2 separate regions of the Homo sapiens genome follow, and region 1 is linked to region 2. Evidence: fine-mapped expression QTL. A gene starts in region 2. The other region holds a variant in brackets. All regions are shown on one strand. Distances are between the middles of the regions. Region 1 holds the start of PGLYRP2 (peptidoglycan recognition protein 2). Region 2 holds the start of WIZ (WIZ zinc finger).

The links. PIP is the estimated chance that this variant, and not a neighbour inherited with it, causes the effect.
Region 1: its variant is fine-mapped to the expression of WIZ in whole blood (TOPMed, PIP 0.96).

Annotation. Positions count from the first base shown.
Region 1 is chr19:15,477,549-15,480,450 of GRCh38, forward strand. It overlaps PGLYRP2 (peptidoglycan recognition protein 2), which reads right to left and starts at 1,953. Exons shown (of 5, transcript NM_052890.4): 1 at 1,763-1,953. The coding sequence starts at 1,823. The variant C/A (reference allele first, on the strand shown) is at 1,229.
Region 2 is chr19:15,448,808-15,451,709 of GRCh38, forward strand. WIZ (WIZ zinc finger) reads right to left here and starts at 1,149. Exons shown (of 13, transcript NM_001371589.1): 1 at 991-1,149. MIR1470 (microRNA 1470) reads left to right here and starts at 741; the gene lies at 741-801. It overlaps RASAL3 (RAS protein activator like 3), which reads right to left. Exons shown (of 18, transcript NM_022904.3): 18 at 2,817-2,902. RefSeq lists silencers at 414-523, 874-993, 1,044-1,173.

The sequences.
Region 1 (2,902 bases), 29 kb after region 2:
TTAGCTGGGCATGGTGGCACACACCTGTAACCCCAGCTACTCAGGAGGCTGAGGCAGGAGAACTGCTTGAACCCAGGAGGTGGAGGTTGCAGTGAGCCAAGAACCCCCCACTGCATTCCAGCCTGGGTGACAGAGTGAGACTCCATCATAAAATAAAATAAATAAAATAAAATTAAATTAAAATAAAATAAAATAAAATAAAATAGCCTGGGAGGCAGGGGGAAGAGCAGGATGGGCTTGTGCCATGTTGGGGAAATGTCAGTGGCTGAACTGCAAACCTAGAAATGCTAAGTTAGGCTCAGAGCTGGTTCAGAGATGGGTTATCAAATAATAGCTAACTTTCAGTAAACATTTACTATGTGCTAGCTACTAGTCTAGGTGACTTATATATTAATAATTTAACGCAGTTAGTCTTCACAACTCTTGTGAGGTAGGTCCTTTTAGCCCCTGTCTTAGTACATTGGTGCTGCTATAACAGATCTCTGAGGTTGGGTAATTTATGAAAAACAGAAATTTGGCCAGGTGTGCTGGCACATGCCTGTAATCCCAGCACTTTGGGAGGCCGAGGCAGGCGGATCACTTGAGGTCAGGAGTTTGAGACCAGCCTGGCCAACATGGTGAAACCCCGTTTCTACTAAAAATACAAAAGTTAGCCGGGTGCGGTGGCGGGCACCTGTAATCCCAGCTACTTGGGGGGCTGAGGCAGGAGGATCTGTTGAACCCGGGAGGTGGAGGTTGCAGTGAGCTGAGATCATGCTGCTGCACTCCAGCCTGGGCGACAGAGTCAGACTCTGTCTAAAAAACAAAAAAAAAGAACAGACATTTATTTCTCATAGTTCTAGAGGCTGGGAAGTCCAAGATCAAAGCACTGGCATTTGGGACTTCCTAGCCTGCAGAACTGCAAGAAAGTAAATTTCTCTTCTTTACAAATTTACTCAGTTTCAGGTACCCTGGCCTATATAGAAGCACAAAGGGACTAAGATGGTGTCCCTTTACAGATGAGGCATCTGAAGCACAGAGAGGTTAAGTTACCTGCCTAAGGTCACACAGGAAGGAAGTGGCAGAGGCAGGATTTGCCTTTGTTTTTTTTTTTTTTTTTTGAGACGGAGTCTTGCTCTATCATCCAGGCTGGAGTGCAGTAGTGCTCAGCTCACTGCAACCTCCTGAGTTCAAGCAATTTTCTGGCCTCAGCCTCCTGGGTAGCTGGGATTACAGGTGCCTGCCACCA[C/A]GCCTGGCTAATTTTTGGTATTTTTAGTAGAGATGGGGTTTCACCATGTTGGCCAGGCTGGTCTCGATCTCCTGATCTCAAGTGATCTGCCCGCCTTGATCTCCCAAAGTGCTGGGATTACAGGCCTGGCCAGTAGTAGAATTTGAATCCAGGAAGTCTTACTCGACACACTCTCCTGGTCTAGAATCTAGGTTCTTCTCCAGTCCACCACCTAACCTGTGTAGCTTTGCTCTTCTCTGCAAAAAATGCCCTTTCTGGCTTCTCCCCCAAATCATTTCTCTTTCTTCCTAGCCTAGCTCTTATGTCTCCTCCTCCAAGAAGCCTTCCCTACTTTTGCTCTCCAGGCCCCAGATTCCTTCCCTTATCCTTGCCTTGACTCTGTGGAGCTGGGAATATCTATGTCCCCATGCTGGAGCTTCTTTGAGAGCTTGAGTCTCCAGCCTCACTCCATGCAGGGCAAGACATAGATGGGACAGCAGTACGCCTTCTGCAGAGCCAAGAGGTTTGGTCCCAGGACTCTGCCCCCTGACTCACCTGTCCCTGGGTCTGACCACAGTAGCAATCCGAGTAGGATCCAGAGGACACCCTGGGCCATTGTTGCAGGATTCCAGCTTCCAAGGGGTATTTCTGGTTGGCCTCGGCAGAGAACCTCGGCAGTGCTGGAGGGAGACAGGCACAGAGAACTGAGCAGAGCCTTTGACCACTGTCAAAGTCCAGCGGCGAATGACAGACCTGCCTCTCGTAGAGCTGTGGGCGGGAGGCAGCAGGGACATGGGGCAGCGTACCCTGGGTCAAGGTCATCTGGGCATCCTGGTCTCCCCCAGTCTCTTCTGTCCCTCCTAGGCTGAGGTCAGTGGTCAGTAAGCCAGGCCCATCCCCAGAGGGGCCTGGAGACCAGGTGGTTCAGACTCCATAAACTCTGCCCATTCTCCAGTGAGGTGGACCGAGGCAACCCCTCAAGTCCTGTCCCTCCCCATAGTGACGGCTCTGTAGCCGCTGCTGGCCACCAGAGGGGACTCTCAGCTGCCGCCTGCTGTACTGGTAAGACCGGCTGTGTTGAGGGAGAGGAGAGAAGCAGAGGCCTGAAGTTGGCACTGCCTTCTGCTTTTTTTTGCAACCAACACTTCAGGCTCAGGCACAGCATCGGTGCGGGGGCTGAGGACAGTGTTTGCTGAGGCCTGAAGTTGGCACTGCCTCCTGCTTTTTTTTGCAACCAACACTTCAGGCTCAGGCAGAGCATGGGTGCAGGGGCCGAGGACAGTGTTTGCTGAGGCCTGCTCTGAGCCCATGGGGACCAGGGGCTGTCACCTCTCATCCAGTTCCAGCCCTTGATTTCAAGCCACCAGCAGTAGCTGAGAGCAGGGGTTGAGCTTGAGTGTTCAGGACCCTGGCATTGTTCCAGGAGCTGGCTTCTGGACTCACCTGGGCTGACAGTGAAATGTCCTTCCTCTTCTCCGGGTGCCCATGACTGAGACCTGCAGAATGGACCCATCTCCCCTTTATTCTGGCATCAGATGGGGCAGGTTGACATGACTGGGCTGTTGTGTATGTAAATTGCTTCCCTGTGGGGCTCCCACCTCAAAACCAGCCCGGGGAGTTTCCAGGAGACCCACCAGCTGGAGACTCAGCCAGGGCAGGCCTGGGAATGTCCAGCCTGAGCCAGGCCTGGGATTC
Region 2 (2,902 bases):
CCTATACACCGTCAGGAGTCTCCCATCATTACCCCTTTACTTTTCTCCATTGGGTTGTCCCATACCAATGATCCCTGCACTTTTCCCACACTCCAACCCTTCCCCCACACAGGACCTTAGGGTTCTCCAGCATTAACCCCTTCACCCCCCTCCACACACACAGCCTCAAGTGACCCCAGCATTAACCCTTTCGCTTCTCCCCAACATTATCCCTCATGCATACCCAGCTTGGGCTCCTCCATTCCCCCCACCCCCCAACCAAGATTGCTCTAGTCCTCGGGCGAAAGAAAACGATAGGGCTCCTGGTCCAGAAATGAGGACCCTGGGGAGCGGGGGTTGTCCTCTCTACCTATAAATACCTTCAAGGTAACGGCGGAAAGTGAAGGGCAGGAATGAGGCGCCCTCCCCAGGGAGATGGTGGGGAGGCCGGGCCCAGGCAACCGGGGCGGGGCCGGGGCGCCAGGCCTGGTTGCAGGCGCTGCCCTCGGGGGCCTGGGGATTCCCAGGGGGCTCCTCCGTGGGCTGGCAGTCTTGGTGGGGGTCCCTACCCAGGCCCGGAGGAAGCACCTGCGGTTGTCCACTGGGTGGGCACTGCCCGCGGGGAACGGGCGGGACCGCAACTTCGGAGCACTTTGGCAGCGTGGGGAGGGGGCTCCTACCCGGACGCCCCCCAGGGGTCGCAGAGGTGGGGGCTGCGCCGCGCGGGCCCACTCCTCGGGGGTCCAGGGTCCGGGGGATGAGCCCTCCGCCCGTGCACCCCGGGGCAGGAGACCCCGCGGGACGCGCCGAGGTAGGGGGGACACCTGCCCCAAGACCCCCGCCCCTCCCCCCACCTGCACGGCCCCGCCCCCGGCCAGGCCCCGCCCCTGAAGGCCCCGCCCCCGCCCCCGCCCCGGGGGGTCCCGCCTGGCCCGGCCCGGCCCGGGGCCTCCCCCGCCCCGCTACGGCTCCGCCCCACCCGCGGGCTCCCCAGGCCGGGCCGGGCCTCACCGGGGAGGCGGCGCCGCCGGCCAGGTGCCGGGGCTCGGAGCTCCCCTCCTTGGTGCGGCCGTCGCTGCCGCTACCGCCGCTGCCGCTCCCGGTGCCGGTGCCGCGGCCTCCGCAGCCGCCGCCGCCTCCACCGCTCGGGGGACATTGTCCCTTTAAATCGCTCCCCCCGCCGCCCCGCCCCCCCGGCGCGCCGCCGTGACCTCAGCGCGACAGCCCCGCCGCGCCGCCATGATGGGGAGGTCCGGGGCGCCCCCCCCACCCCACCCCCCCCCCCCTCGCCGCCCCGGGGGGGGCGGCCAGCGGGCGCGCCGCCATGTTGGGAGTGGCCAAGCGGGTCACCCTTAAAGGGCCCGCACGGCCTGAGTCCAGGGAGAGGCCCCGTTACCATGACAACACCCTTGTCGTCCCACACCCCAATGGCTCCTTATCGTCCCACTGGTACTTCCAATGGTAGGCTCGCTAAAAGCACTAAAAGAGTGGGGAGGGTGCAGAGAAGTTCCCCCATGGGTCATTGATGGGTCATTGATAGGTCATTGAAGACTCCACCCAGCCAATTTTTAGCCTTTTGTCCCCTGCCCCCCATCAGCTACCTTCCAACCACAAGCTCACTCCCTCCTTCCCAATCATCCACACTGGACTTCAGCACCTCCATGTCCCTAGAGTTGCCCTAGGTCTTCAGTCCTAAGTCACCTTCTCCACCCAGTTCCCAGGATCACAGCTTCCAGGACTACCCCATCAGACACACATCATGGCCTGTTGTCTTGTCTTATCCACCATGTATCCAGATATCTAACCACCTAGCTATCTCATCCACTTCCTCAATCTATCAATCACTCATCTACCTATCCAATGAACTAATCACCTATCCACCCACCCCTCCAACCACCTATTAATTCACCCAAACACCCACTCAACCCACCCATTCACTTCCCATCTACCCACCCATTCATCCAGCACCCAAGTAAATACTCATTTATCCATACAACCAAGCAAGTACCCAACCATCCCCACACACATCTTTCCGCCCAGCCCCCCAAACATCCATCCACCAGTTTGTCTGTTGATTTGGTCCCTCCACTAACATGTAAGTTCCATGAGGCCAGGAGTCCTGTCTAGTTCATTATTGTTTCTCCACTGCCCAGTTCTCAGGCGTCTCAGGAGACCTCAACATATGTACATATGATATATATAATCACAACATTGAAAAAAATTTTTTCTTACTATGAACCAGGCCTTTTCTAGGCAGACATACCCAACCTGGTTAACCAACTACCCAGCTACTCACCTACCAGGTCAAACATCCAGCAAATGCTAACCTATCCGTCTGCCGTTTGCTCCACCCACTCTACCCCTCACCCATCCACTCACCCATGATTTGAATGACTCATTTACCCAATCATTCATACACAGTATCCAACCATCTCCACACCTGACCCCCTTCCTTTATCCGCCTCCCAGACCCATGGCCTCCGTGACATGAGGAGGGCCTAGGAAGATGCTCTCACTGTGGGATTGGGAGGTTGCCAGGGGTGGAATCCATGCTTCATTGAGAAGCAGGTGCTGCCTATAACAATGGTGAATACCTTTTATCGAATGCCTTTAACTATGGGTCCTCTCACTGTGTAGGGAACTTTACGTCCATTTCACAGATAAGAAAACGGGCTCTTAAGAGAATGAAGGTCTAAGGTCACACAGCTGGTGAGAACTTGTGTACATGGCCCTCTCCATGAGACTTCTAATTAGGGGAGAATTTGGGAGAGATGAATAGGGCTTGCGGGGCAAATGCCTAAGAATTGGCAATTCTTAGTGGGCAAAGAAACCACCAATTTCACTGAAATCAAGATTTTACTGGGCAACTTCATACTGCCAGAGTGGTTGGGACCAGCAGCTCCACTCCCCACTGTAGGCCAAG